2 separate regions of the Homo sapiens genome follow, and region 1 is linked to region 2. The links come from fine-mapping of genetic effects on gene expression. Tissue or cell type: thyroid. Region 2 holds a variant in brackets; the other region holds the start of a gene. All regions are shown on one strand. Distances are from middle to middle.

Region 1 (16,513 bases), 99 kb after region 2:
TCTGAGGCTGTCCCAGAGGGGAAGCCAGCTGTCATCTCCTTCTTCCACACTCTGTTGGAGGAACCTGTCATTAGCAGCTCCCTACTAAACGCATTTATGACAAACAGGCAGGAGATAATTAACTAGAAAGTGAACAAACTCAAACTTCAGAGCCTCTCATTTGTATGAATGCCCTTGTAAGGTCTTGGGCCTATTTTAATATTTATAAATGTGTTATTTTCTTCTAAAGAAAACCACCAAATTGTATAAGCTACAGAATCTGCAAAACTGAGGTCCATCCATGCACTCAGGATACATTCATAGCATCTCTGAGCTGGAAAATATCTTAAAGGTCATATATGTCCTCCAACACTGCAAGAATCTCTCTGGCAGCATTCTTTTAAAATCATCATCTAAAAGAGGGAAATCCCCAGCTGTGTTTGGATTTTGCTCTGTCACTTGTCCAGTTTCCCCATCCATAAAAGGGCAACAATATGAATTTCCTGATAAGGTAGTTGTTAATATAAATACAAAGTGCGTAGCCACTTCCCTAAGAAAAATATGGGGTTTCTGCTTCACAGTCTAGGGAGAGGAAAAAAAAGGGGGGTCAGAAGTGATTATTATTATCATTCTATATTGGAATGTTTTCAGACATAAAAAGCTCACCACGTCTTAGGCCAGACAGATGCATTATGAAAGTTAAGCTAAGTCTTCCTCATCATGAGCTGCACCTATATCCCCATTACTTCTTCTAGAACTGCATAATTTATTTATTCTTTCTTCAAAAGTTTGAGAGAGCCATTCTTGTCCTCTAAGATTTTTTTTTTTTTTTTTGGAGACAGAGTCTCCGTCTGTTGCCCAGGCTGGAGTGCAATGGCACTATCTCAGCTCACTGCAACCTCTGCCTCCCAGATTCAAGTGATTCTCCTGCCTCAGCCTCCCGAGTAGCTGGGATTACAAGCACGCACCACCACAACCAGCTAATTTTTCGTATTTTTTAGTAGAGACGAGGTTTTACCATGTTGGCCAGGCTGGTCTTGAACTCCTGACCTCGGGTGATCCACCCACCTCAGCCTCCCAAAATGTGGGGATTACAGGTGTGAGCCACTGCACCCGGCCATCTTCTAAGACTTCTATGGAGAGCTACATCCTTTAACTATTGATTGATGTCTTAGTATCCCTAGAGCACCACCTAGTATCTGGCATTTAGCAAAGTCCAAAGAGTGGTTTCAAGTAAGCAAGTAAAGAGATTCATGAAAGAATAAGTGTTTTTCAATCAATCACTTTATCCTTAAATCTGGTAGGTTAACTCAGAAGAATGAAAATAGAGTACTAAGGCATTATTACTTCCTGTAATCTGTTTACTGTTTAGTCCCTCAATGGGAAGAAAGTTTTCTAACAAATAACTCCAAGTTTTGGTTCAATAAACTTTGCAAAACCAGATATCCACATTCTTGAGAGCAGGAATTTGATGTTCCTTAAGTTTCAGTTCTCCATCATGTCTGGGCCCTAGTACTTTGTATCTAATACTCAATATACAATTTGGAAAATCTGAGGTATAATAAACACACAGTAATGCACACACATTTTAAGTGTGCAGTTTGATGGATTTTTACATATCAATTTATTTTAGTAACTACCACTTAGCTCAAGATAGAACATTACCATCACCCCATGTATTTTTATTTCCCCATTTTTGTAAATACTCTCTTCACTCTCTTCTAACCAAGTAACTCTCTAACACCATAAATTAGTTTCCTCTGTTATTGACTGATTTGATGGCTGCTAAGATTAAAATAAAAGTGTGGGTTTATATCTGGACTTTCTATTATTTTCCATTGGTCTATTTTACTTTCATTCTGACAATACCATAATATCTTGATTTCTGTAGCCTTATAATAAGTTTGGAAATCTGATAGTAAGTCTAAACATCCAATTTTATTCTTCAATAATGTTTTATCTTGGTTCCTCGTATATACATAAAAATTTCAGAATCAGCTTATTAATTTACACACACACACACAGCCATTTATATTTAATGTAATGAATAACACAGTTGAGTTTTAAATTTACTATCTTATTATCATTTTCTCTTTGCCCTATCTGTTCTTTGTTCATTAATTCCTCTTTTCCTGCATTCTTTTACCTCAGTCAGGTATGGTTTATAATTCAATTTTATTTTCTGTATTACCTTTTTTGTTGTGCGTTTTGATGTCATTCTTTCATTGGTTACACTTAAAACATCATCCTTAACACTGTTACCTTAAATTATCAAACGCAAGGATCTTATATTTATCCTTTTAAGGCTGTTATTCTATATTTGACTTTAATAAACAGTATAAGCCCCACAAGATACTCTTATTCTTTATGTGTCAAACAGTTAGTCTTTTATAAATTCTCAATCATTTACCCTTTCTGGGGCTGTTTATTCTTGCTTACATTTCTGTGATTCAATGTGAGACTATGTCCCTTCAGCTTGAAGAATAACCCTGAGTAAATTCTGTAGTTTATAGTCAGCTAACAATGAAGTCTCTCAGTTTTTGTCAGTCTAAATCTTTTTCATTTTTCGATTCTTTTCAATGGACACAGAATTCTGGTTTGATAGTTTTTATTTGTTTCTTTCTGTACCTGAAATATATTTATTATCTTCTACCTTCCATGATATTTCTGCTGAAATCAATGTTCATTTATATTGTTCCCCCAAAGGTGATTTTTTTAAACCTCTGGTTGTTTTTAAATTTTCTTTTTCGTCTTTCAGCAATTTGACTCTCATAGGCCTAGATGGGGTTTTCTTTGCCTGGGGTTCATTGAGCTTCTTGAATTTCTTGGTTGATATCTGTATTAGTTCATTTTCATGCTGCTGATAAAAACATGCCCGAGACTGGGCAATTTGCAAAAGAAAGAGGTTTATTGGACTTACTTCCACGTAGCTGGGGAGGCCTCACAATCATGGTGGAAAGTAAAGGGCACATCTCACATGGCAACAGACAAGAGAAGAGAGCTTGTGCAGGGAAATTCCCATTATTAAAACCATCAGATCTCATGAGACTTATTCACTGTCATGAGAACAGTACGGGAAAGACCTACATGATTCAATTATCTCCCTCCCACAACATGTGGGAATTATGGGAGCTACAAGATGAGATTTCGATGTGGACAAAGCCAAACCATATCAATACCTTTCGAGTTCTTCACCATGATTTTTTCAAATGTTGTTTCTGCTAGTCTCTCTCTCTCTCTCTCTCTCTCTCTCTCTCTCTCTTCTTTCTGCTCTCTCTGGATATTTTCTATTGATTTCTATATGAGACCATCAGTTTATTTGTGTAGTATCCAGGTGGTTTTTAAACCTATGTAATTACTTCTTGATTTAGCAATTCAACAAAGTTCATTTTATTATTTTTATGAAACCTAATATCCTGCTGAAATGCTCTGTTTTTTAATCCATTTTGCCCATCTCCACGGTAGTTCATGGTTATTTAAAAGCCCTTGCCTATTAGTTCCAAAATCTGTGTCATTTCTTGAGCTCTATTGACTGTATTTTCTTTCTTTCTTTCTTTCTTTCTTTCTTTCTTTCTTTCTTTCTTTCTTTCTCTCTTTCTTTCTTTCTTTTTTTGCCATCAGGTACTCTTTTCTGCTTCTTTGCATGTCTGGTAAGTTTTGATTGCATGCAGCATTTGTAGAAATTTTAGCTTATGTTTTCTTCCTCTCATAAACTTTGAGTTGTGTTCTAGCAGGTGGTTAAATCATTGGTAGATCACCCTAACCCTACAGAAGCCTAGTTTTTGCTTCGTTCAGTCAAATCTATTTCAGTTTATTCTTTCTCTTAGGACATCATCCTTCTATCTAAGGAGTATCCTTCAAGGGTTTCATCCTAATGCCTGAGGTGTTCACCAAAGTCTTTCCATTCTGACTGGAACCGAACTCCAACATCTCCTCAGAATTGTGTGATCTCTAAAATGTCCACTCAAATTTCAGCCTCTCTGCCACTGCACTGTATCTGTCAGGTCTCTAGAATAATGCCTCTGGACACATGCAGCCTAGCAATTCAGCTAACGAACTGAGAGGAATTGCCACACAGACTTCCGGTGCTGCCTCTTGGTACTCACCTCTCTGTCACCTTGCTTACCTCCAGAAACCTTAGTTACTTTATATAGCTCCAAGCTCTTGAGCTATATGCCCTCTGCTCAGTGAAACTGCAGCTCTCTGCTTATTCTCAACCTCCCAAAACTTCTGCTGAAAAAAATATCCCCTGAGGAAAAATAATCCATGGGAATGGGCTCATTCCATGTGCCTCCAGTTACCCCAAATTGCAGCACTATGTTGGTTATGGTTCAGAAGTAAAAAATGTTTGATATAGTTTTTCCAGGTTTTATAGCTATTTTATGGTAGAAAGGCAAGTGAGTGCTATTAGCTAATTGTCCAGAACCAGAGTCTCATTTCATAACTGCATAAATCCTTTGCTTATCTTGTGTATTTTTTTAAACAAACCTAAAATGCAGGATTTCTAAGTATTTTCCAGTTCTAGCTGATTTCCTTCATTTTAGATGAAAATCCAAAGGTAAATACTCTTTGGTTTCTGATTTTTGGCATCTTGTAAATAAGCATTGCCTCCAGTTTGGTTCATTCTCAGATCTATTAAGTATCCCATTTATATTTTCCTCTGAAATATAATTTGATAAATCTGCTGAATGATCGGGCACCAAGGTCAGGACCAATACCTTATTCAAGCCCAGCATGAATCCACTTACCAAGAAACTGGAGGCAACTCTGTCTAAACTGTAATTTGTTTGATACAAACATGCCATCTACATTTACCTTGTCCATAATGATAATGGGAAGGTTAGCTGAAATCAGGAAATACTGTATTATGAGTTTAGTGACTATTTACAAGTGGAAATGAATTTAATCTGGTATGATTTATTTTACTAAATTGTAGTTGCTTCCTTTTCTTTTCTCACTAGTCACAAATGATTTATTTCAGTATCTTCTCCAGAACATTGCCAGAGGCCAGTCTCAAACTTAACCATTGTATACATACCAGAATATTTTCATTAAAAATTAATAACTTTTGTCTTTCTCTGAAAACTACATAATCACTACTTGTCCATTCTTTTGGTCCTTGCCTGTTCTTTATGGATCAATATTATCAAAGCTACTCCTGTTTCCACAGGCAAATAACAATTCTATGTAATGGGAAAGATATTAAATCCGAATTCATGTTCCTCTTACTAGCTATATAATGGACAATTAAATTATTCCTTTAAATTCCTTTCTCCTTTAGTACACAAGGATAAAATACTCATTTGATTGTTTTAAAGATTAAAGAAGTATCTGAAAGTAACTGTTATATTTTCTTCTGAGAGGTATCCCAATAAAAAGGCTACAATATTGTTATTATTATTACTATTCTAGTATCCTGGATGCAATTTACCTAAGCCTAGATATTTTAATTAATTTAAGTAGCCACATGCTTTCTCACTAGCTATTTTCCCAGCATGATCTCAATCTTTTCTACGCAAAGTTTAGTCTCTTCTCTCCTAAAGATTGTTCTACCTAGAGAAGAATATAGGTTCAGAAAGGAATTCATATACTGGTGTTTCTCTAATCTCTTAGAATTACTTAATTTTTCAAAGAGCTCTATCTTTTCCTATTTATCTTCTTGTTCCAAATAGAATTAAAATCATTTGCTGCCTTTAATATTGTTAAATATTTCATTTCATACTATGCTTCAATTTCTTGCTTTTTTCTTCTTTTTATCTTCCTCCTTCCTTCCTTTTTCTTTCTTTTCTTCTTTTTCAGTTATCATTGTTATGCTTGTCCTTTCTTGTGAGATTCCTCTGTTATCTTTCCTTATGTGCTTTTTAAACAAAACCTCGAGAGTGCCGTGGGACAGCCTCATTGGTATCTTTTCAAATTTGGTATCTCTCCACTTTTTCCTTACATAGTTAGCTGGCAGTAGTACATAATAACCTTTTCTGTCTCTCTCTCTTTCTTTCTTTCTTTCTTTCTTTCTTTCTTTCTTTCTTTCTTAGATTTTCATTCCTCTTGAGCTTTAAAAGACTGGCTAGCAATGTTATATCTTTCATTTTATTTTCTGATTTAAAAAAGTGTGTGTGTGTGTGTGTGTGTGTGTGTGTGTGTGTGTGTGTGTACGCGCGCGCGCGCGCGCGTGCACGTCAGTGTCTTCTTCATGGATGCTTGTCTTATTTTCTCCCAAGGTGTAACTGTCCAGGGAGGGAAAAGTCAAGTCGTCCTCTATTACACTGCTCTGCAGAAACAGACTCACTAAATGTCAAAAAGTAGATGCATCAGACTGTTCCTTAGAGAAAGGTTTGCCATGGAGTCGTATATTGTAACTGAGCTGAAGTTCACTCATCGATAAGTTGTGCCCAAGGAATCGAATTCCTTCCAGTCCTTCTAAGCAGTCCAGGGAAACCAATTTAAAAGCGAACACAACAAAACTAACAGACCGGCAAAATCTATCTTTGAAGCGCCGCGGGAGGCACAATTTGGGAACAGGTGAGGCCATGCTGGGTGGGTGAGGCCCCCCTCTCTCCTGCTTGGTGTTCCGCTTTCAGCCAACCCACCCCAGGAGTACCCTGGGATCTCCTCGCCCCCTGCCAGGCGGAGAACGCGGAGCCCAGCGGGCACGCGGGAATGGAGCTAGGCGCCGGCAGGGCAACTGGGCATGCTCAGAAGCCGGGCAGGTTTTGGTCTCAAGCACGCAGCCTGTGCATTACACCAGCTCTCTCAGTCCGGGGAGGAGGAGGAGCAGGAGGAACGCGAGGAGGAAGGAGAGGAGGAGCGGCCAGCAGTAGCCACGACCGCCACCACCAGGCAGAGGAAGAGTTCGTGGGGAGGAAAAGACCTCTCCTCCCCCTTGGAGCGCCTTCTCTCTGCTTTTGGAGAAAGGGAATACACGATAAAGAAGGAGACGGAAAGAAGAGAAAAAGTGAGGCGGGAGACAGAGGGAAAAGGGCGTGAACAGAAAGGGCCGGAGCGTGCAGGGGAGCACAGGGCGCGGGGGCGGCACTGCCGAGCCGGGAGCGCTGCCGCTTGGGCAGGTGCCGCGGCCGCTGCCCGGAGGCGGCATGTGACGCGCGGCCGCAGCTGCCCGCGGGCGGAGCGCTCTCAGACCCCGGAGCGCACACCGCGGGGCCATCGGTGCCATCGCGGATCTCCAGGCTCCTCATCAGTCCGCCGGGGCCGCAGCAGCGCTTCTGGGAAGACGGGCGATGAACTGAAGGGCGGCTCCGGGCAGGGGGGCACGATCTTAAGGACAGTCGCTCCCTGAACGCGGAGCCGGAGGAGACGAAGGGAAGGTGGAGCGGACGCCACCCGCGCACCGGGCAGGCGCGGAGACCGGCGTGGGACAGCCACCTGGAGCGCAGCTGCCAGGTAGGGACGGCGCCCGCCACCCAGGCGCTGGGCAGAGCGGGTGGCGGTAGCGGCTGACCTGGTTTCTTGCCTTATCTCGTTGCGAAAGGAGGAAAAAGTTTTCGGCGCGGGTAGGAGAGGTCTTGTGTTTGGAGTCCAAAGAAGGGGCTGGGTAGGGACGAGAGAGGCTGTTGATTTGGGGAAGATGGGGGCACTTGAATTCCGACAGCGCGATCTGGTGCGGAGTTGGAGTTCTGGGACTGAGGGTGGGGAACGCCCGCTGGCACTCAAGTGCCCCGAAAGGGACGGGAATCATGCGAGCGGTGGCCGGGAGAGAGTCGGGGACGTCCCACCCCGCTCTCCCTCGCTTCGATTCTCTCTTCGCCACTGCCGGATCTGAGGCTCCAAAGTGCCCGAGCATGAGGAGCTACTGGGCTCCGGGTGTGTTTGTGAGCGCACTCGTGTGTTGAGCGTTTGTCTCCCATCTCCCCATTTGGTTTCCTGTCATTTCTAAGAAGGCTAAAGCTGGCACCCGCCAACCTCGCAGTGGGGCCGCAAGTTCGGATTGCATTTCAGGGGGCGAGAAGGCAAATTTGGCACTTCGAGTAACACTTGGGCGAAGGTACCTAGCCTAGTGCGCATCTTTACTGACCCGGGGAGAGTCTGCACTCGCGAGGCAGCGGCCGCTGGACTGCACCGGTTCTCCTCTTTGGAACACTTCCTCAGCATAGCCTCCTAATAGCGAGGTTAATTTTTGCGTGTTTTTAAACGGCGGGGGCGGGCGGACAGTTGACTCCAGCAGCAGAATTCACTTGTCTACTTCGCGGTGTGCGTGCTGGAATTGAGATCCTGTTCTGCATGCTTGTGCGTGTGTCCGACTCTCCTTGCACGCATTTGGAAGTGGTAGAGGCAGCAGGGATTTGGGAACTGCATCCATATGGATAGGTTTCAAGAATGCAAACCTTCATTTGTCTGCAAGTGTTACTGGAACCTGTCCAAAGGCTGCAAGGATATGTCCCCTCGATCCCCGCCAGTGTCCGTGTTTGCAATGTGAAAGGGCGGCCCTCTTTAGGACAAAAATGTATTTATCAAAGCGATGTGTGGTTAAGAACACTGGTTATTTCACCATATGCTTTGCACAGACTTTTCCTTTCTCTCTTGCCCTCTGAGTTCCAAGACAGATAACCTGTCCCCTCCCCCCATTTTGACCTTTGTAGGTTACTATTTGAAAAATAATTTTTAACTGGGTGCAGTGATTATATAGTCCAGATAATTTCATATTGTGAGATCGTTATATCGCATGAACCATTCATCATTATTTCCTGTGTTTAAAACAATGCCCATGTATTTACTTAAGAGAGACTATGAACATATAGTTCAGAAAGGGGAAAACTAAACCTAGAGCAGATACCTGCATATAAGCGTATTGTAGTGGTAGCACGTTAATAAAAAACTAAGGTATTTCTGTTCCAAATATTGTGGGATAGACGAGGTGTTGAGTGCACCCTCTTGTTATAAGAGCTGATATCCCGAAGTATACATGTGCAAGGAACATGCCTGCTTCTTCAGTGTGCATTCCAACATGCCACAGAAATGTGGTTTACATCATAGCTTCTACCGCCGAATAGTCTATCTTTAGATTTTGTTTACATGGTTTGTCTCAATTAGCTTAATACATAATTAGCTATTGTTGGGCTAGAAAGCACGTTATTTTTGTAGTGGTTTCCATATGGAAATATAACGTTCGCTTAATTACTAATTTAAAAATAATGACATTGCCGGTCGGATTTAGAATGTTTCTCTAGGTTGGGGGGTATTATGAGATCGAATGTAGCACGAAAATAGCAATGTCGAAATATTGTTTTTTAAATAACGTTGCGTCATTAATCGAATGAACATGACAGTTGAAAAAGAAAATGAGATAAAAAGTAGACTTTGAAAAATCTTTATAAATTTTCTGTGTGGAAAATTATTGTAAGGGAAAAATGTAATTTGGGAAAAGGAGCAAATGTGGAATTGGTCAAGTTTTAAAGAAAGAACAAGTGTTATAATGAGTAGTTCTGTATTAAACCTACATTTAAGCTTATTTAGGAAAGTTTGCTTTAAAATTTAGAGAAATCTATGATGAATATTCAGTACCCTACTTTTATTCTGGGGTAGGGGGAAGTAAAATGTCACTTCAAAAGTATTATTTACTTCTGAAGATTATTTAGGCATGTGTAAAAGTTCTTTAGAGTGTACCTTCTCATTTTTTCCTTATAAAGACAAATGATTTAATTTCTTAACAAAGAAAATTTGTTATAAATTAGAGTATGTAAAAATGTGAAGTTCTTTTAATGATATTTTAGCCTTTAATTGCAGGCAACCTGTTGAAAGAGGGCATGGAAAAAATGTGAAATTGGCAGACATAGAATTTCTTAGATTCACACTTGTAAATTGAATAGACAGAAAGTTAAACGATATGGTTAAAAGCAAAGTTGCCTTATGTATTTGTAAATTATAAAGTAATACATATTTTCAGATTTTTAGTTAAAATCTCTGTCATTTTCCCAGCCAACATATTGTTCTTGCCTAATAACTTTGTTAACATTGGCAAGCTCAGTTGCTTACTGCTAAATGGCCTGGACGATTCCAGTGTGACTATTAAGAAATTGGGTCTTGTTTGCAGTGCCGGGAAGTTTATACTGGGAACAGCTGTGGTGTAGTGGCACTTTAGATAGGAGATGAATGAACCGTGAATCATATGAAGATGGAGACTGATCAGTATGCAGAGAAGTGTATCTGTCCTTCACTTATGGAACCTGATTTTATATCATATGATGACTAATAGCATTATTCTCACAGTGTGATTTTGGAGGATCAGTGAGTAACTAGAGATGTTGTCTTTTATGTTTGTGAATTTAAAATGTATTCTCCTTACATAAGACTATTGTAAAAGGTATCTATGAGCTTAATAAAATTGTAATCAAATCCCTCTACCACGTTTACTTTTAAAAGTTAATCAGCATAATAAAATGTGCCTTTATGCTTAATTGTTTAATATAGTGTTTTCCTAGATGCAATATATTTTTCATCTATAAAGTTCAGCAAGTCCAGCAGAAGCCCTGTTCTGAAAAATTACTAGCCTTTCAGAACTTTGGAATAAAATTTCAACATCAATGGAAAGTTTTAATTTTATGAAGAGATAATCTAATGTATATGACAGGAGGCAAAATCAGTTAAATTAGAAGTTAGTTTCTGGTGTCTGAAAGGCCCTATCTTCTCCATTAGGGAATATATCTTTGTTCAGATCAAATGCTAAGCAGAGTATTTCTTCAAATCACTCATCACTGCATTGCTCCCTCTGCCCACCCTCCACGGAGAGGGTGTGCAGGTATGAAAGGCTTCCCTCACTTTTTTTTTTTTTTTTTGAGATGGAGTCTCACTCTGTCGCCCAGGTTAGAGTGCAGTGGCATGATCTTGACTCACTGCAACCTCCGCCTCCCAGGTTCAAGCAATTCTCTGCCTCATGAAAGGCTTCCCTTTTCATCAGTGAACTAGCACCTGGAGAGCTCTGTTAGCCTGCTACCTTCCCTAGCAGTTGCATGCCCCAGACAGTATAGATCTCCATTAGTGTTGTCTTCAATGCAAGAAATAAAAATAATTTTGGTCTGGGCACAGTGGCTCATGCCAGTAATGGCAGCAGTTTGGGAGGCCAAGGCAGGAGGATTACATGAGGCAAGGAAATCAAGATCAGCCTAGGCAACATAGCCAGACCCCATCTCTACAAAAAGTGTAAAAACTTAGCCAGGCATGGTGGCGTGCACCTGTATTCCTAGCTACTAAGGAAGATGCAGTGGGAAGATAGCTTGAATGCAGAAGTTCGAGACTGCAGTGAGTCAGGATCATGCCACTGCTCTCCAGCCTGTACGAGAGTCTGAGACTCTGTCTCTACATAATCATCATCATAATAGTAATTTTGGTTTGGTGAAGCAATTGAAAATATTAAACCATAATGTGGCTTATGTGATAACTGTGTGACCTCAAACATTTCATTCCCCACTGTACACTTGAAGACCATAGTAGTTGCCCTGTCCATACCATGGATTGGTTTTGAGAATCCAGTGCATGTGGATGTGCTTTTTGAACAAACTCTGAAATGCAGTGCTTGATTGGAACCCAGAGCCCCCTCAGTACACCATGATGGACAGCACTGAGCGCCAGTATGTAGTGGCCCTCTGGCTCAGTTTTTGGCCTCTGTGTGTTGTTTTCTATCCAGAAGTTTTGGCAGCTTGCAGATTCCCCAGCCTCTGGCAGGCTCTCTCTTTTAGGCTGGCGATCTGCATTCTCCCACCTGTTGGAACTTCCCGCTCATCCCCTCCTGAAGGCCAAGGACTCTGGCTGACGTGCACCTTCTTAGCTTCCTCTGCTGAGGCTGCAGCTGCAGCTTGCCACATTGACACAGACCTAGGGTCCAGTAGTGATGACAGGAAGTCAACAGAAGGAATATTCTGAGCCCCTGCCAGCTTCTCACCAATTGTGCCAGTTCATCCTGAAGCCATCCGGAATATGAACACTTTGAGAAAAACAATGGTGGCCAAAAATTAAAAACAAAAAACAAAAACCAATTTGATAAACAGTAGCTGGCAGATGCCTTGTGGGCTTTGAGACCTTGCCTTTCCAAGCCTGCTCTGCATGGGACTCAGGAGCCTGGCCCTTCTGATTCCACAACCAGTGCAGAGTCTGTCCTAACCCTAGTGAGCTCTAGCAATTCTCATGCCCCCCTCACCTCAGTTTCTCTAACTCCTGTCATATTTACCATTTCGTAGGACTAGGATTTTATTGAGTTTTCAATTTGCACTTTCAGTACTGGATTTAATGTCTGGCCTGGGAAAATTTTAGCTATGACCTTGGCAGTCAGCCTCGCCCTTGCCAAGAACTTCTCTCCAGGAGCAAGACCCCTTTCTTTCTATTCTGTCTCTGATTCAATCTCAGTGTGACAAACCCTTGGACCTAAGGCACAGCTCCTCTCCTGACAGTGCATCATTTCCGCCTGAGACTTGTAGTGCCCGGTTCCACTTGACAAATAAATTCTCCTTGTCTGTCATTGTTGGCAGGATCAAATCTCAGTTCTCCACACCTCTCCCAAGCAATGTAATTTGAGTGGCTGACTATCCACTACAGAATTAATCCTTCATTAGGTCATTTGTTCTAGCCCAGTCCTAGCCTGCTTCCTGTCCCCACTGTTCCCTTGAAATTTGGCATGCCAGCTGAGCCATGACATCGTCTACCTTCTGTCACCTCTAGCACAGGAAGTGGTGCTAATGTAGACATCCTGGTTCAGGCAGGATATCCGCCGACTACTGCTGTTCAGATAAAATTCAGGTGAGTTTAAACCAAGGTGAAATACTTTCAGCCTGTTTTGGAGAGAGTTCCCAGAGAGAGGGGCTACCAAGTGTGTACTTCCCTGCATTTATGGCTGTGAAGTGTTTTGGTGCTCTTCTACTGAAGCCTTCTAATTTACCATAGGTAGCTATGGCTATAGACATAGATACATATAAAAATATTCTGTCACTAAACTGTAGGAAAAAGGAGCTGCTAACAGCCTTTGTCTACATTTTTTAAGACTTGTCACTTTGGAGTACATTTTCTCCCACTAGAATTGCCCATGGGATCCAGACTGGAGGGAAACCTGGTTACTGCTAACTATTAATACATACAGGCCAATTCTTGCCCACAGCCATTTGACATTCCATCGAGCTAGCTCTCACTTCCATTGAAACCTAATCCAGTGGTATTTTGTAGACTCACAATCCATATAAATTTTGGCTGAGCATAGTGGCATACACCTGTAGTCCCAGGTACTCGGGAGGCTAAGGCAGGAAGATCACTTGAGGCCAGGAGTTCAAGGTTATAATGTACTATGATTGCACCTGTGAATAGCCACTGTACTCCAGCCTAGACAACATAGCAAGACCCCCATCTCTTCAATAAAGAAAGAAAGAAAGAAGATCCCATATAAATATTAAATATTGTTGGGTTTTTGGCTTCAAATTGACAATATGTTGATGACTATATTTAAATGTATATCCATAGTCATTTAAAAATGTTATTGAACACAGTCTTTTTTGTGATTTTTCAATTTTCTTAGTGCAAAATAGTCTAAAAGCACAACTTCTGTTGTGGGAGGTCTCTCAAACGATTTACATTGAAAAGAAGTTCTCATACTTGAAATAGACGTGATGATCCTCCTGCCGTGTTTCCTGTGCTTTCTCACATGCCCGATAACACATGCCACATGCAGTAGCTTGTGTGAAGGGAGAGGTGATGGGAATCTGGAATGGCCATGATGTTTCTTTATATGGAGTCCTCCTTTCTTCTCTCCTCACCCCAGATCCTTTCCATCATGCAAGGACCAGCCAAACTCTTCCAGCTTTCCTTGAGCGCAGCTATCATTCTGTTTTTCCCTGTGACTAATTATTTTAAATCCCTTGATTCATTTGAATGTTAGAAACTGAAAATCGGTCTGACTAAACAACTACAAATCACTTCCCTCTACTCTGAATACTAGTGGCACTCACCATTTTTAATATAAAATTTGATGCTCAAGGATAACCCAGGTAGTATTTATTTTGATTCTCTCCAAAGAAGTTACCTTCATGAGAGTATATAAGTAAATATATAATAAATACATGTTTGAGTAGAATGAGTAAATGACTCAATCATTCCATCTATCTACCTATCAATTATCTATCTCTTTATATCTAATCCACCTATGTTCATTTACATAGGTGTTGTATATACATCCATTATCACATCTTTCATATCAGTATCATCTAATGTGCAAAGTACCATGGACATTCTGTTTTGGATACACAGTAAGTCAAGGGCTCTGCTTTTCAGAGCATATGATCAATGTGAGTGTAACTAAACAAATCTGGGTTGGAAGGGGATGTTAGATGTTGCGTGAATTTCTTAGGTTTTAAAACAGAAGTTTATTCTTTCACAATTCTGGAAGCCAGAAGTCTGAAATCAAGGTGTTGGCAAGACTGCACTTCCTCTAAAGACCCTAGGGGAGAATCCTTCCTTTCTTCCTTCAGCTCCTGGTAGCTATCTGCATTCCTTGACTTGTGAGCATATCATTCCAATCTCTGCTTCTGTGGTCACGTTGCCTCCTCCACCTCTTTCACTGTCTCCTCCTGTATATGCCTGTCTTATAAGGATATGTGTGATTGCAGTGAAGTCCCAGCCAGAAAATCTAGGATAAGCTCCTCCTTTCAAGAGCTTTAACTTCATCACATCACATCTTTTGTCATATAAGGTAATCACAGAACCTGGGGATTAGGAGGTGGGCACATCTTTTGGAGGGACCGCCATTCAGACCACTGCAGATGTCATTAATGAACAACTTTTGGCTTTGGACCTCTCTCTTGTGTTAAACTGTGCAGTCTGTATGTTTGAGAAATTAACACTCACCAGGGGGGTCATTCCATTTTCACAGAGCAGTGAGATGCAGATCCCCTTTATATTGAGCCAAAAATCTAATTCTCATTGTACTTATTTGCCTTCTTAATAATTCTGAGAATTATGATGAGAACACTTCTGATCTTTCTTCCACAAGAAAATCTTTAAAGTTGAGAAGTTTAAAGTTATTTCAACCTGGTCCTATGTGCCACTTCTAAATTTTCATGATTTTTCTTAACCTTTTCAATTACACTCACCGAACAGCAATCACACTCCCCTAATCTCATTACCCTCTGACTTTAAATCTTTTGACTCCTCTCATCCACCTTCATGAGGTTTATAGCAATGACTTCTCCAAAAGTCACCTGTAACCTCTTAGTCATAAAACGGGTAGCCCTTCCTTGTCTGTCCTGGTTAATCTCTTAGCAATCCCTTTAAACTCCCTTAATTTTCAGAGAATTATACCTACCTAGCTCTCTTCTCTCCTCTGGTTCTTTTCTCTTCTTCCTGTTCCCCACCCCTATTTTCTGCAGAGTGTAGGGCTTTCCAGCAATTTCTCCCTGGTTGACTCCCATACTCTTCCGTTGCCTCTCCTTTTGTACCTGCCTCTGTCTTCACGATTTCAAATACCCTTTCCATGTGGGTCACTTGGCTTCAGTAAGGAGCATTTCCATGTGCTTGCTGGATAGCACAGCCTTCCCCTCCTTCTTCCTCATCCTGTTCCCCTCCTGGGGTTCCTATTTCTATGAATAGCATGACCATCCTACAGCTCAAATGTTATGAATAAATCAAGTGATCTTGATTTATTCTCTTCCCTCACCTCCTACATTTAGCCAGGTACCGAATTCTAATGATTCAACCAAGTAAGATCTCAACCTTCTTGGCTACTTTCCCCTCCTGCTACCAATATCTTAATTCATCATTTCTGCAACTTAAATGTGCATTCAGATCACATAGGGATCTTGATAAAATGCAGACTCTGATCCATGAGGGCTGGGTTGGGGCCTGAGAATCTGCATTTCTAACCAGCCTTCAGGTGATGCAGATACTGCTCCTCTGTGCTCAGACCACACTGAGAAGAAAGGCTTTATGTTTTAGCTTTGTATCTTTTCTTAGTCTCTGAGCTTCCCAGATGATCTCATTGATCATATTATTGCCTTTGATCCATTTTACACAGATTACTGTTATTGAGGACCAAATGTGATCATCTTTCTCCTACCCTTGAACACCTTCTTTGACATCACCTTCCATTGCCTGTTGAATAAAGACTAAATGTCTCGCATCAGCTTCACCCTATTTCATGGCTTGGGTTTGCATGTTGAGTTCAGTCTCAAGTCTCAAGGTCACCCTTCACTTTACCCTGGTACTTGCTGTTGCAGGTATCCTCATCCTCTGCCACGTTCTCTTGCTGCATAGGATGCCCTTTGTGCCACATCATCAGGGATCCAAATTTTAGCAATTTGTCAAGGACCACTTGAAACGAATTCATCTTCTGTTACTCTATCAGAATCTCACTTTTATCCCTGATTACATTCACTCTTGGTTTTAGTGTGTGTGTGCCACAAATTGTTTGAAATATCAGACTGTGAACTCCTTGAAAGATGCTGTGTTTTGTTGGTCTTTGACTGCTTTCAAGTATCTAGTGCAGAGTCTTCTTCATAAATGCTCAGTGTGCACATTCGCATATAAAATATGTAAACAGGCACAGTGGCTC
Region 2 (16,513 bases):
TAACACTTATTTTTTGTTATATGTATTATATCTTGTATTTTTACAATAAAGTAAGCTAGAGCAAAGGAAATGAGATTAAGAAATTCATAAGGAAGAGAAAATATATTTACTATTCAATTAGTAGAAGTGAATCATCATAAAGATCTTCACCCTCATTATCATCCTTACACTGAGTAGGCTGAGCAAGAGGAAAAGTAAGGGTTGGTCTTGCTGCCTCAGGGATAGCATAGGCAGGAAAGGTAGAGGAGGTAGAAGGGAGGTAAGAGAGTCAGGCACAGTTCCTATAATTTTACAAAAATATATTGTATTTTCTATCTGATTTTCTGCTTTTACATTTCTCTAAAAATGTTTCTATATGGTACCAATCCTTCTTCCATTGTTTGCTTTAGTTTCAGTGTCTATATCTTAGAAGGATCCATGTCATAAGAAGTCAAAAGCAGTCTTGAATAATCAAAACCCTTCTGCCAGATTATCTAATATCAATTTGTCAATTTTTTTTTTTTGAGACAGAGTCTTGCTCTGTCACTCAGTCTGGAGTGCAGTGGTATGATCCTGGCTCACTGCAACCTCCTCCTCCCAGGTTCAAGTGATTCTCTTGCCTCAGCCTCCAAAGCAGCTGGAACTACAGGCATGTGCCACCACGCCCAACTAATTTTTGTATTTTTAGTAGAGACGGGGTTTTGCCACGTTGGTTAGGCTGGTCTTGAACTCCTGGCTTCAAGCGATCCACCCACCTTGGCTTCCCAAAGTGCTGGGACTACAGGTGTGAGCCACTGTGCCCGGTCCTGGCACTGCTTTTTAAATTTCTTCTTCCTCATTGTCTGATACTGGTTCAGATGCACTCATCTCCGTCAAGTCTACCTCTGTTAATTCCTATGATGTGGTGTCTATTAGCTCTTGAATTTCTCTAAGATCCATATCTTGAAAGCCTTCCATCTACTTTTTTTTTCTGCCATATCCACAATCTCTCTAATAATTTCCTTGATTGATGCTGTTGTAAATCTCGTTACTCAGTTTCTCCAGCAGGAATTCATTGTGTAGGGCTTGATGGCTTTTGCATCTTTTTCTGTAGCAACAGTGGCATCTCCAATGGGGTAATCCTTCCAGACTTTTATGATGTTCTCTCTTTATTGGAGTTCTCTTCCATGACGTTGATAATCCTTCCCAAAGAGTATCATGTGTAATGAGCATTAAAATCTTTATGACCCCCTATCTAGAAGCTGAACTAGAGATATATTTGGGACTAGAAGACCACTTTGATACCTTCAGTGTTGAACTGTTGGGGTTCTGCCTGGCCAGGGGCATTGTCCAATATCAAAAGAACCTCAAAAGGCAATCCCTTACTGGCATGGTACTTCCGGACTTCAGGGAGAAAGCATCAGTGAAACTAACCCAGAAAAAGGATTTTTATTGTCCAGGCCTTCTTGTACAACCAAAAAGTCTGGCAGCTGGTTTATCTTTCCCCTTGAAGTCTCAAGGGGTGAGCAGCTTTACAGATAAGAGTAGTCCTAATCATAAACCCGACTGCATTTGCAGAAAACAGTAGAGTGAGCCTATGACTTTCTGACTTAAATTCTGGTGCTCCCTTTTCTTCTTTACTAATAAATGTCCTTTGCATTTTTTTTTTCCAGAATAAGGAACTTTTATCGTTAAAAACCTGTTCAGGCAGATATCCTTTATCTTCAATGATTTTCTTAATGGCATCTGGGAACTTCTTTGCTGGCTCTTGGTCAGCAGAAGCTGCTTCCCCTGTTATCTTGACTTTTCTTTAAGCCAAACATTTTTCTAAAATTATCACGTTATCCTTTCCTGGCATTAAATTCCCCAGCTTTAGATCCTTCACTTCCTTTTGCTTTAAGTTGTCATATAATGGCTTCAATTTTTCACAAATCTTATTAGTCTATAGGTATCCCTTTTTATAGCAATCCTGCACCCACATAAAAGCTGCATTTGGACACAAGATAAAAATGCATTTCGCAAACAGTGCAAGGTTTTTGCACCTGCTAGCATAGCAGCAGCAATGGCTTCATGAATTTCCTTTTCTCTTTTTTACAAAGGTCCTTACGTGGGATCCATTTATCTTGAAATGGCAGGTAACCACAGCTGCAGACCTCAATCCGTGGTGCCCATCAAGCACTGCAACTTTTTCTTATAATGTCATGACTTTTCTCTGCTTTTGGGAAGCACTTCCAGCATCATTAGTCACACTTTGTATGGCTCCCATGGTGTTATTCAAGGTTACGATATTGCACTAAACACAATGAAAAATACCTGAGAACTATAAGAGACCACTTTTACTGTGATAGTCAATTTGCTGGAAAGATAAACTACTCACGCAGAGATGATTGGCTTCACTAGGCGTTTTAAGCAGACACTCACAACGTTTTAAGCAGATACAACACTTGAGCTCACCACACTAGCAACAAGAGATGGCTACAAATTATTACAGTGGATGCACTACAATGAAGTTTATGCGGTTATGATTTAATACTGCATCTTTATGTTTGTCTACATTTCTCTCTGCTGCAAATGGCGCCATATACAAGTCTGTGTTTGTGTGCATAAGTTTTCATAAAGTTTTACTTTTTATAATAGATTTCTGTATGTTTTGTGGTAGTAAATGACATAACAGATAAGTATCTACATATATTTTATGCATCCATGACATACATAATATATTCTTCATTTTTAAGATATTTCTAGGCTATGCTGTTTGTCTATGAGTTTTTTTCAAATTGTCACAAATCTCCACAAAATTTTGCAATATGGTTATTGAAAAAAACTTGCATATAAATGAACCTTCAAAGCTCAAAGCCATGTTGTTCAAGGGTCACCTATAGGCTCTTTTGATTGATTTCATTTCTACTACGAATCAAATATGTTTTGAATTTCTGACTTTGCTGTAGGAAGGCGATTTTATGTATGAGTCTGTACTCAGAGATTTACCTCATTTTATGAAAATTATCTCTTCATATTCTCAAAAGTTAGGTATTGACACCCATCTTCAGAGATGCAAGTATGTGCAGAGAGTCAGGAAAATTTCAGGTAGGCAATTGTTAAGCTTATGTGGGAACAATAATTTTTTATTAACAGCAAAAATTTTCTTAATTTTTGTCTATTTGTGAACTGCTTGCTTTCACATTCAGTAATCAGCCAGTAACTCCTTCATTTTGGTATGCTCTGTTTTCAGATGTGTTGAAAGCCTTAGTTTTTCTTTTTCATTGTAATTTCAAAATATTTGTTCAACTCTCTCAGCAAAACAATTCTTCCTTTACTACCCCTTGGGGAGACTGGACCAAACTGTCACTAGTTCTTTCTTTGAAATGTCAATTTTGCTGTTTGAATAGTTAAGCCATCATGGAGGAGGTCAGAAAAAGAAAAGCATCCACTAACTTTATTCTTTTGTCATTCTCTTCTGCCCCTCTTTCTGCTCCCGCTTATGGTGTAGTTTCTATGTCTGGGTGCATCTGTGTGGCTGGGAATTGGCTAGACTTTAGAACTGTTGACTGTCCCTGCCTGGTGCCCTGGTGTCACCTGTATCATCTTTGCCCCTGGCCACGGAAGATGGAGCGCCTCTGTTTCTCCCAGTACTTCCAGTTCTTTATGAGCTTACCTTCTCCACTCGTTCCAGTTAAAAGTCAGTCTGATCGACTTTCCTTGGAGGTCACTCTCTGTACCTCTTTCTCCTTCAGCCACTTGAACCTTCTGTTCTTCTCTTTGACAGAGAAGAAAATGTGTTTACTATAAATATTACACATTCGGAAACAAAATATTTTGAATACACATTCGTTTCTGAATGCACACATCTATCATCTCCCCTAAACAGATCTTGAGATGTAGGTAAGGGGAAACTAAAACTTAGATAACAAATACAATAGTAACAGAAATAAAATATTTTCTTCACTGGATCATATAAAGGAAAATACAGACCTTGTTTGTTTTGTAGTCTTGAACAAATTACTTAACTGAGCATCATCAGTAAAATGGAAATGATATCCATCTTGCAGAATAATTTAATGATTATATATGTAAAGTGCCTGCTGCATGTTTAACCAATGGTAGCTTGTTAATACTAAAGTATTACTAACTTTCCTTCCAGAAAGGACTTAAGTACGTCATCACAATTTATTATCTCTTCTCTGTGATCTACAAACCAGAATCACAAGATGGGCTGAGGATCTCACCTCTATCCTCCTTAAAATTACTTCCCTACCCATGCTGCATTAGTCTGTTTTCATGCCACTGATAAAGACATTCCTGAGGCTGAGCAATTTACAAAAGAAAGAGGTTTATTGGATTTACAGTTCCACATGTCTGGGGAGGCTTTATAATCATGGCAGAAGGCAAGGAGTAGCAAATCACATCTTACACAGATGGCAGCAGGAAAAAAAAAAGCTTGTGCAGAAAAACTCCCATTTTTTAAAACCATCAGATCTCATGAGACCCATTCATTATCACAAGAACAGCATGGGAAAGACCCCACCCCCATGATTCAATCATCTCCCACCAGGTCCCTCCCACAACATGTGTGAATTATGGGAGCTACAAGATGAGATTTGAGTGGGGTCACAGAGCCAAACTATGTTGCATGGCTTCATGAAGCCTTAATATTAGGGCATCTTTTTTCCTTGCAAGTTGTTCAAGTCTCTTGACCCTGTAATATCAAAATGAAAACATCATTGCTGTCTTCCCCAGGAGTCTCATTCAATTTGGACTTTCATATAAAATTGTCAATGTGTGAATACAAATTAGGCAACCCCCTGCCCCTTAGAGAAGAGAGAAATGTATTTTTGTCTATTCTTTACAAAGATTTTAAGCTGATTTAGCTGGAGAGGTCAATTTGTGACTGATTGTATTCAACATAGCCAGCAACTTATATATTTGGGATGTATTTAGTTTGAGGATCTGCCTTTGATTTTTTTCATTGAATTGAAAGACACATATGTAGTTGAGCTTCTGCTGACTTTTTTTTTTCTTAACCCAACTAAGTGCTACCTAGATGGCAAAGAGATCCAGCAACAGAATTCAGAAGAAGAAATGAAGTAAAAACACAGAGCTAGACCCAGAACCCATACTACGGACTTGACCTTCAGGCACCTGCTGCTACACAGAATGCATCACAATTAATTGGAGGAATAGCAAGACAACCAATGAGCAGAGGGCTGGACCTCACTCATTCATAGAGGCCTTGGCCTTTTCAAAACCTGTCCCTCCTCCACAGCCTCTGAGATTGGTGGGATGGGAACCCAAGAAAGGAGAGGACTTGTTCAGAGCATGCCAAGCCCCTCCATTTTAAGCACTTCTCACTAATTTCAAACATAGAAAATGAGAAGAGTTACAGAATCAGTACTAGATGGCAACAAGGTGGTTGGGACCCAGCCAAGAAGGGAGATTTGACACAGAAGACTTGAAAGCAGTGATTGAAATAACAGTAAAATGTTGCATGTCTGTATCCCCAAAGTAGTTTAGATGCCACCATAAGCCAATTGACTGTATGATCACTTCTATTTATTCTCATAAATACTACGTACCAATATGGATAGTACTTTCATGCAGGATCCAAAAATATTTAAAAACTACAATTATATTTACATAAAATAGGCATAAGTTAGGTTAGACTGAAATAGATCAATATTTTTAGACCAGTTACATTTAGATGGTAAAATATTTATGTGATTTTTTGTCTTTTTCTCCATTGATCACTTATTCAATAAAGTGTTTGTGTAGTTTGTAAATTAAAATATAATTTTATAAACCATAAGGATGACTTAAAATTATTTATTCCTATCTCTCACCTAAGTTTTCATCTAATTGACATAAAATCTCTATCCTTCCCTTCTCACTCAAATTCCTTACCTTTGTTCTCTCTGCTTTTCCACTTGGCATCTCCCATTCAGCCTTCAACCCTAGCTTTTACCCTTGAAATTGTACACAGTCTATTCTTATGAAGATAAAAGTCTTACCCTCCTCAAACTGATCTCATGCACAACCATAAGAATGATCATCTTAAAACTAATATCTTATTACATCCACTCTTCCTTTCAAAAATCTGTCAATGGCTTAGCTTCCCATTGCCCATGTTACGAAGAACTCATTTTTGCATTTAAATTAAAGCCTTTCTTTCTCCCCTGCTCTGCTCTTAATCATTCTTTCACTCCCATTTACTTTTATCTCTTTTCTGCCTGTCTCTCTAGCCTCACCTCTCAACTCATCTTTTCTTCAAAATTTACACCCCAATGACACTAGTATGATTACAGCTCCCTACAAACATAATCTGATTGTTTCTTCTTCATTTCTTTTAGGCTTGCAAAATATTTCCCCTCTTTCTGGGAAGGGCCTCACCCTTCTCTCGCCTCCAAGATTCCTGCATTCTTGTTGAGTATTGAGCTCATCCGGGA[G/A]GCCTGTCCTGAGACTCAGAGGATTGTTGAAGTGTTCTTTCTTTGTGCTCCCATTTCCTCATTAAAACTGTTATGGAATTGTCATTTTTTTGTTTGTTTACCTACGTCCACCACTAAACAATGATAAGTTTGGGAGCAGAGATAACGTCTTGTTCCCTTTTGTATCTCCGGTGTTTAGACTATTGCCTGGCACGTAATATGATTTTAGTTTTTAAAATGAAAGAATTAAATCATTAAACTACATTTATAGTATGCATTTATTCCAACTACTATAAATTTGGTTGAGCACTATCATATAGCTCATAGATTGAATGCTTATCCACAAACGATGTCATGATAAATTTTATTAGATGCTTTGTTATGCAAAAAGGAAAACACACATTGATTATACCATTCTCTTAGGGGCCACATTAGAAATGATGTTGAGAGAGGAAATGACATGTGTCTGTTATGCTCCCATATATGGCCTGAGTTGGACACACTCACATGAGACACGATGCGTTGACCTGAACCAAGTACAGAAGACGGATCATCTTTTGCCACCTCTCTCCCCTTTTCAGACAGTCCATTTCTGACATGGTTAGTTCTACTGTCCCAGTTTACAGATTCCTCTCCCATTCTCTTGGAAATGACTTAATCACAAAAGAAACTTAATAATGGCAACTTCTCAAGCCATGAAAAATGGCCCTCAGAATAGTTCACCTTTTTTTTTTATTATACTTTAAGTTTTAGGGTACATGTGCACAACGTGCAGGTTTGTTACATATGTATACATGTGCCATGATGGTGTGCTGCACCCATTAACTCGTCATTTAGCATTAGGTATATCTCCTAATGCTATAAAAAAAAAAAAGAATTGTTCACCTTAGTCATTAAATAAGGGCATACTTATCCACCAACTCTCCTTTCTCTTTGGTCAAGGGTTTTTTTTTTTTTACTTCCTGGTTTGTCTCACCTCAGAATGCCTGAGTAGGTCCCTATAGGCACCTATGTGGGAGCAGCAGAGAATTCCCAGGGCAAAAAGTAGGAAATACGTGATACAGCTGAGGCATAGTATGTGAGGTTGCATTTGCATAGTGGCGGTCAGACCAAACATAGAATAACAAGGTGGACGAGCAAAGATGACCCAGGTACAAAAAGTGTCTAATGTAAGCAGTAATAATAGCAGCATTTCTGCTTTTCAGTGGGTAAATGAATGAGATGCTCAGCCTCCCCAGGGCAAGAGAGGGAAAAGGGGAGCATTGTAGATGAAATAATCATTGAGTTGTACAAAATACCAGCTTCAGCCTCAATGAATTACTATAGTACAGAATGAAATGCTTTGGCAAAGTCAATGAATAAAAAGGAGAGATTATTCTATTTCCCTTCCTTGGCATCTTACTTACAGGAATAATTTCATTCTGACTCTGTGTAATGAGGTTTATGACCCTGGGCAAGTGAGTGACTTGGCTGGGCTCCAATTTCTTCATTTATAAAATGAGATGATCACTGAGTTCCATTAGAGCTCTAACATTAAGATTTTATGAATCTATGTGCACACAATATACTAGAGTTTAAACTCTGAATTTCCAGAACTATGCAAGTCTGTATTATTGCACATGACTGTTCTAATGGATTCTCTACATTTTCCCAGTGCTTGGAGATCCCACTGCATTTTGGTTTTTCTTCTTCTGTGTGCTGATTATAATGATATATTAATTGCTCTGGAATTTCCTATTTATAGAAAGAAAAGCCTCTGAAGAATGCATTCAGGAAAAGTGGTTTATATGGATTATATGAAAATCTTAGCATGTATGCCTTTGGAAATACTCACCTATAACTGCCCATTTAATGACTAATTTCCAGAGCTTTCTCATCAGAATTACAAATAACACTGAATGCTTTCCCGTGGCCTCCAGGTTGCATATGGTCTGAGAGACTAACTCTGCTTCCTCTCCTCCTTCCACTCTCCCTCCCTTCCCTAATTCTAGCCACACTGGCTCATTTTCTGCACCTTGATCACATTTAGGCTTTCTGCCTTAGTCTTAAAATCATGTTCTTCCTGCTTGGACTCTTCTGTTTGTCTGTATCATCCCTTCTTCTCCTGATTCATCTCTCAGAGCAAACATCGCATCCCTGGAGATGCCTGCCTGAGACATCCAGTCTAAATTTGCTCCAGCCACACTCTATTGCTTCATTTTATGTTCCTTTTCAGAATTATTATTGTATTTTTTAAGTTTATGTGTAGTAATATATTTATTTCTCTGATCCTCATAAATGGTAAATTTCATTCTACCTTGAATCCTGAGTTCCCAGGAGAATATCTACAACATAATAAATGTAGGATTTATTTGTTGGCGAAATTAAATAACCACTGAGTGGTACATGGGTCAACATTCAAACGAAAAAGAACAAATACAGAGCTTGAAACTAGAATTCTTGTTTCAATTCTGTCTCTCATGTGATAGTATATAACCTGGGAATAATAAGTACTGTTTACTTCACAGGTTGTTGCTTATGTTTAGACTTTATATATAGTTACCTGAAATCTCTACCTTCGAGAATATTCGAGAAGAATCCATTCATTCTGTCATGTTTTATGTTACAGTGTGAATCTTCATCACTATTAGCTGTGAAAACTTGTGCAAGTTACTTAGCTCCCCTCAATTTCCTTACCTACGAAACTATGGTAATGACAGTACCTACCTCAGCTGTTAGATTCAGAGTACTTCGGAAATACCTGACACATTGTAACCACTTTATAAGTGTGTTACTTGTTTTCATTGTGTGTCAGCTTCTTTTCCTATTAATAACTCTGATTTAAGCTTAATCATCCTCTGAGGCAGCACTCAAATGCCAGGTCTTCTGTAAAGCCTTTACTTATATCCCTGTTTGCCTATTCCTTCCCTACTACATTACACAGAACATTAGTGATTTCTTACATTTCATTCCCTAGTCAACACTTTAAAACTTGCTTGCTTATTTATTTTCTTTCATAATATAAACTAAAGGATCATCATGAATTTCTCTAGTACATTCATTCAATTCTAGTACATTTCTAGGCCATTATTTTGTGGATAAATGTATATTTCCGCAAATAGATGGAATTCTCACTGTCTCAATTTATTTAAAATATTCATTTAAAACATTTGAATAAAACAATTTTCTTTTGTAAGCATCATTGGTCATGAATAGAAGGAAAATCAATTTTTAAAAATAGATTTGAGAAAATATTTTTAAGTCAATTGCCTTTTGATTTCAAAATACTTCAAAAGGTTCATTCTTCTTGGACTATAATTTATTTACTAAAATTCAAAATGAGATATCTGAGAAAAAAGTTATTGCATTAAATAAGAAAAAGCCTGTATTTTCAGTCCCAAATGGATGTATATCTGCTATTTTATCAGAAGATTTGCAATTTTAAAATAAATTCAAAAGCTTCCACCATATTTCTTGGTAAAACTAAAATAGTTATATCCAACAATGAAGTGCAGAGGCAAATACTATACACAAATCATAATTTTCATGTATTTTTTCAGTTATAGTCCACAGTGCTAATTATTTTATTTTTATACTTGTGCTTTCTTTCTTTCTTTTCTTATTTATTTGTTTATTTTTTTGTTTTTTTAGACAGCTTCACTCTGTCACCTGGGCTTCAGTGCAGTGGTGTGAGCTTGGCTCACTGAAATTTCAAACTCCAAGGCTCAAGCAATCCTCCTGCCTCAGCCTCCAGAGTAGCTGGGACCACAGACATGTGACACCACAACTGGCTAATTTTTATATTTTTTTGTAGAGATGGGGTGTTTCCATGTTACCCAGGCTTGTCTCGAACTCTTATGCTCAAGCACTTCACCCACCTCAGCCTCCCAAAGTGCTGGGATTACAGACGTGAGCCACTGGGCTCAGCAAATTTTTCCTAAATGTATTTAGAAGTTGAACAAGCATAATTATTTTATTTATTTCTAGTCAGTCATCTTTTCTATTTCCTGTAATAACTGATCAAAAATCCTCTATCCATCACCCCAAGACCCCAGGTATACACATGCAGGATCTTCATCTGCAGATAAAATCTGATATGAGCTTTTTGATTTCTTTCTGCCTCCAGTCATAAAACTCTTGGTACTCATTTACATTTACTTCCTTTCATTCTGTGTAAAATGAAAGCATCCAGTTTCAAGCTCAATCCCTTCCTGTGCTTGACTGATTGGAGTAAAAAGACTATTAGATATACTTCATTTAGATACACAGTACCTGAACATAAATCCCTGAACCTAATTTCGCTCACTTAGTAATCACAGGCCAATGGGTTATTGAATTAGCAATGTACACAGGAAAGTCCTAAATAAATTGATTGTTTTCTTCTGCTTTCTTTTCCCTCTTAAATTCAAAACTCTCTAAGACCTCAATTGTCTTTTTCTCTTAGTATCTGTTCAATGATGGATGATTCCTTTTTCTTCTGTTCCTCTCTAATATATTCAATCTCTCATTTTTAAATTTTCATCTTGTCTGTATTCAAATTATGCCCCTACCAAAAACACACACATAAAGAAGGAAACTATACCAAATTGCTTAAGATCAGTGATGAAGAGAAAACCTTAAAGCAAACAGAAAAAAACTGAATTATATGCAAAGGAACAAAAACACACATGAGAGTAGTTTCTTGTAGAAATAAGACCAACCAGAAGATGGTGAAGCAAAACCTTAAAAGGAATGAAAGAAAAAATTTCAACCGACATAATAATGTACATTTGACCAAATTAAATTCAAAACCAAAGGCAAAGACAAAAACTTTCTAAGAACAAGAAAATGGAAATAATTCAGCAGTAGCAGACCTGCACTGTAAGATATATTTAAAAAAAAAGAAAAGTCCTTCAGGAAGAAGAAAAGTGACAGCCCCTGGAAATCCAAATTTACAACAAGAAAAGAAGAGCACTAGAAATTGTCACTATGTGAATAAATAGAATTTTTTCTCACTAATTAAATCTCTTTAAATAATAATTGATTGTTTAAGGCAAAAATTGTAACAATGAATTGTGAGTTTTGTAACATTCATCAGAAGTAAAATGTATAAGCAAAAAAAATCACAAAGAAGAAAGAGATAAGCAGGAGTATATTCTTGTAAAGTTCACAGGGAAGTGGTATCATATCACTTTATGGTAGACTGGAGTAAGTTAAAGATGTATGCTGTAAACCCTAAAGAAAAAGAAATCACTAATATAATACAATAAAGAGTTATGGTTCAAAAGCCAATGGAGCACGTATAATAGAACCATAAAAATACTCAGTGAGTTCAAAAGATGTCAGCAAAGAGGGAAAATTGAACAATGAACACTGGAGAAAAATAGGAAACAAATAGTAGAATGACATACTTAAGTTCAAGTATATCAAAATTCACATGACATATAAATGCTCTACTGACTCCAATGAAAATACAGAGATTTTCAGATTGGAGAAGAAAGCAGGACCCAACTATTAACTGCCAACAAGAATCCAAAATCCATTTTAAATATAAAGACACAGAAAGTTAAAAATAAAAGATGGAAAAAGATGCAGTATGTTAACACTAATCCAAAATAATCTAGAGTGGCTGTAGCAATATCACACAACATATATTACCCAGCAAAGAGTATGAACAGAGATAAAGAAGGTCATTTCAAAACGATAAAGGGGTCAACGCATCAAGACAACATAAAGTCCCGTGTTTATGAACCTAATAACAGAGCTTCAACATTCATGAAGCAAAAACTGATAGACCTGAAAGAGGAAATAGAAGAATCCACAATTATAGTTGGAAACTTCAACAACCCTTTCTCTATAATTGATAGGACAAATAGACAGAAAATCATTAAGAACATAGAAATATTGGCCAATATTATCAACCTACTTGACCACCCCGCAGTTATGCAGACTACCCACCTTTTCAAGTATATTGGAACATTTAAGACAGTGTTTCATGAAAGAACTGCCAACAAATCTAAAAGAAAGAAACATTTTCCAGACTAACTTTCTCTAAGAAAAAAAATAATTTATTCCTGGCCACTTATTGCACAATATTTTCAAACGTTTGCCTTAGATCATAACAGTTTTTCATGTCAACACTTACAAGTTCGTATCAAAATTTCTCTGCTCTTTTCACCATTGCCCTCTGTCCAAATTGCTGTCCACCTCCTTTGTGCTACCTTGGAACTTTGCCCATAACCGTGTCATAAAACTTTGCCTGTTGGAATCAGCTAGACTGTGAATTACCCTCAAGCCTCATTTCTTTTTTATGGTAAAACCTATGCTGACTTCTCAGTCTTCATCTTACTCTAACTCTCAGCAGCATTTGACAAGATTGATTCTCCTTGTTTTTTGAAACGCTTTCTGTCCAGCTAGCTGTCATGACATCATCACATGCTCTCAACTTTTCTACAACTGCTCTGGTCTCTGCTTATCCGCCTCTCTCTGGTCCAGGTGAACCTCCCCTGCTGGATTCATGCTGCTGGGTATGAGAGTCCTGCATGAGGTATGAGAGTCCTTTAAGTATGTTCTATTTTATTCACTCTCATCTTTCTTTAATATCTCTTCCAGTTCCGTGGCTTTACAAACCATTTGCATGCTGACAGACCCCAAATTTCTTTTTTTTTCCTTTCAAGAGTGAGACTCCCTTCACTAGAAAGAAAAATAAAAATTTTTAAAAACACCAAATGTTTATCTTCAGCACACACATCTCCCTGAACCCCAGCCTCTGACATCTATCTGCCTACTTGCCATTTCCACTGGCATGTCCCAGTCCTAGCCTGTCCCAACATGAGCCCTGAGTCTTCTCTTCTCTCAAACCTTCTCCTAGCACAGGCTTTCACATTTCATTAAAGGTAATTCCATTCCTGCAGTTGTTCAGGCTAAAATCCCTGGAGTCATTTCCAGCTCTGTTCATTTGTCTCCTGTAATATAGCCAGTCCCTTAGCAAGTTCTCTGACCCCTGTCTTCAGAATCTATGCAGAGCTCACACCTACTCCACTGTCACCACCCTGGCCCAAACCACCGTTCTCTCTTACCCGGATTGTCATAGAGGCTTCTCAACCTGTCTTCTAACTGATGCCCTCACTCTCTTCAGCCTGTGCTCAACATGGCAGGTCATGTGAGCCTGTGATTCAAAATCTGCTCATGGCTTCACATTACACTCGGATAAAAGGTAAGCCTATTGCAAAAGTCTAGGGTCTTTCAGGGTTTCACACCCCACCTCCAGCTCATTACCTTTACTCTTCCTCTGTGTATCGCTCTGATACACTAGAGCTTCCTCACTGCTGTTCAAATATCCCAGGCAAAATCCTTTATACTTGCTATTCCTTCTGCCTAGATACAAGGGTGTCCAATCTTTTGGCTTCCCTGGGCTACAGTGGAAGAAAAAGAATGTCTTGGGCCACACACAGAATACACTAATGATAGCTGATGAGCTAAAAAGAAAAAAAAATCACAAAAAAAATCTCGTAATGTTTTAAGAAAGTTTATGGATTTGAGTTGGGCCATATTCAAAGCTGTCCTGGGAAACATACAGCCCATGGACCTTGGGTTGGACAAGCTTGGCCTAGAACATTCTACTCCCAATTATCCGCATGGTTCATTATCTCACTGCTGCCAAATGTTGACTCAAATGTTATCTTCCTAGAACAGCCCTCCCTGATGGTCTCTAGGGAGATGAAACTCCCCTGACCACCTTTACCTCCTTCCTACTTTATGTCTTTCTGTAAAACATATCACCATGTGGCCCATTATATATTTTAGTTATTTAATTAATGTATTGGTTCTCTCTCCTCCCTAGAACATAAGCTCCAGAGGGCGGGGGTTTTTGTCTGTTTTACTTACCACACTTTTCCTAGCACTTAAAACAGTGCTTGATACATAGAAGGCACTCAAGAAGTATTTGTAGAAATTGGAAAGGTATAAAACAAGTGAATGAATTAGTGCATAAATTATTTCTCTGGACTTAACCTCATTTCTACAATAAATGAAAATCAGAGTAAGCATTTATTGACATGGAAAGGAAAGCCTGGGCAAAGAAGACAAAGTTAAAATGAGAAAAAGGACAATAAAGATGAATGAAAGACAAAAGTAATGTACAATTATTCTCTTTTCTAGTCTTCATGTCTGATTTAGGAAAAGAAGAATTGTTTTGGACAGCTTATGCTATTCTTTATTTCAGCATAAGCACTGAATTTTTATTTTCATTTTTCAAGCTCCCTGTGCCCTACTTTCTTTACGTTTTTAAATAACAATGATCCACCCCCTCAGATGGGTTCTGTCAGCTATCTTGACCTTTGTCTCAATCTTATTTTTCTGTTTGACCTACCCACTATGCTGAGAAGACATTTATATTTAAGTCTCTGTTAAACAAGTCCAAAAGAATACACCAGTTTCTTTCAGAAGAGACTGTATTTTGTCCTCAAGGAATAAAATTGTTTAAATGTTACTGGAGACATAATTGCTGTTATGCTTCCATTTTTAAAATTTTTACATTTATATGTAACCCTACTTTAGTCAAGTTATGTCACGAACATTTCCAAATATTTCCCCTCACTTCACAAAAGTCATTTTCTCAGGATTTTAATAGAATAAAACTGAAGGTGTGTCCATCTGTACCTATTCATTGTAGTTTGTACAGACTCTCATATTATTAAGACAAAAGCCACTCTATTTTTTAGAGGTTTATTATATACAAACTTGTTGCTTTTTCTGTAACTAGAGGGACACTGTAATTGCCATATATAGCTGTTTCTCATTGTTACAATTTGAAGACACTGTTTAAGCATTAACACAAATTGCTAGTCAATCAATCAGCAATCATATCTTGAGCAGAGAACATGCCCTCACAGATCTAATGATTCAGCAGTGTGATCAGCTATACAACCAGGATATAAGATTTAAATTCATAGAACATTGGTGTTAGACACAAGAATGCTACTGTAACTCATATACAAGTGAGCATGAAATGGATCTTCCCTTTTGATCTCCTTTGAGACAGCATGTAGCAACCTTCTGCCCAGAGTCTGGAGTCAGGTATAAAACTAATCAAAGCAGGAAACAAACAAAAGGAAAAAATTAATTGAGTGTGTTTTCTGCTAACACAGCAATTGAAAGACAACTCATGCTCATTGAAAGCCAGAGTAGAGTGTGTAAACCATTCTTTATTTCCATTATGTACAAAGTTATACAGGCAATGCAACCTATCATATAAATTTGTACAAGTTTTAGCAAAGCCAAAAACAGCTTTGAAGAGGCCAGGTTTAAGTTCCCTAAAGGGGAAGGATGGAGACATTAGTGTGATGAGTGATGAGAAATGACCATCCTGCTGTTGAAGAAAGGAATTCACCTGAGGGACGGACCTCCTGACAGTCACTAGTTGTGGTCTCTGAGAAGTTTTGCTTCCTGATAGTCCTGAATTGTGGTCTCTAGGGCTTGGAAACCTCCAGAATCACATGATTCTGCAGGGTTTGGAACTCTGCCTATTTGTTTCTGGTTTGGATTTCATCTAACAATTTGAGGGGAGCAACTGGATGACCTGGATATGGCCACCCCAGAAATAAGCACCTGGTGTTACTACTAAAGTAGGTTCCCATCTTTCTAGTCATTGTGAACCTTGCACTGCAGGATATGCTCTGTTTCCTCTCAGACATTCCCTGCCAGTCTCCTGTCTACTCTGCATCTCAGGAAACATTTTCCATGCTCCCTTATCCTCTGACTTTGGGATGGGTTCAGTCCATTGGAAGCAGAGCTTGAGGAGGGGAGAAGCCTAATAATGGAGTGTCACTCCCACCCCTGCCCCTCTCCTTCCTGGCATCTCCTCAGTCATGTCAGTTCTCACCGGATAGGACCTTTCTTTATGTCACAACTGCCAACAGAAAGTCACCTGGATGTTTTCCGCTCTTGCCATCTTCCCAGTTCCTGTTAACATTATCTCTACTTGTCCCTGCAGTCATCGGGTAACAGTGGCTTCAGATTGTGGCTAAATTTGGGGTCCTTTTATTGTCTGTCTTTGGCTTGTCAGGTCTTCCATCACCTATGTATTAAGTTATTTTATTTGGAAGGAGCTAATGTCATTTCTGTTTTGCTGCTAGATATTGATTGATTCACAGGTTGTCAATAGAGTTGCCTCCTCA

Which allele goes with the higher level. Alleles are on the strand shown, and positions count from the first base shown. SD is a standard deviation of normalised expression in the study named.
As copies of G replace A in region 2, the expression in thyroid of the gene that starts at base 6,718 in region 1 goes down (small effect, 0.32 SD a copy in GTEx).

Evidence for each region. PIP is the estimated chance that this variant, and not a neighbour inherited with it, causes the effect.
Region 1: CHRM3 starts here. The variant in region 2 is fine-mapped to the expression of CHRM3 in thyroid (GTEx, PIP 0.97).

What each region holds. Positions count from the first base shown.
Region 1 is chr1:239,379,851-239,396,363 of GRCh38, forward strand. It overlaps CHRM3 (cholinergic receptor muscarinic 3), which reads left to right and starts at 6,718. Exons shown (of 7, transcript NM_001375978.1): 1 at 6,718-7,377. RefSeq lists enhancers at 7,440-7,940, 7,941-8,441.
Region 2 is chr1:239,281,134-239,297,646 of GRCh38, forward strand. No RefSeq gene overlaps it. Among named protein-coding and RNA genes, the nearest start is that of CHRM3, 97 kb to the right of the region's middle. RefSeq lists a silencer at 6,216-6,510. The variant G/A (reference allele first, on the strand shown) is at 6,399.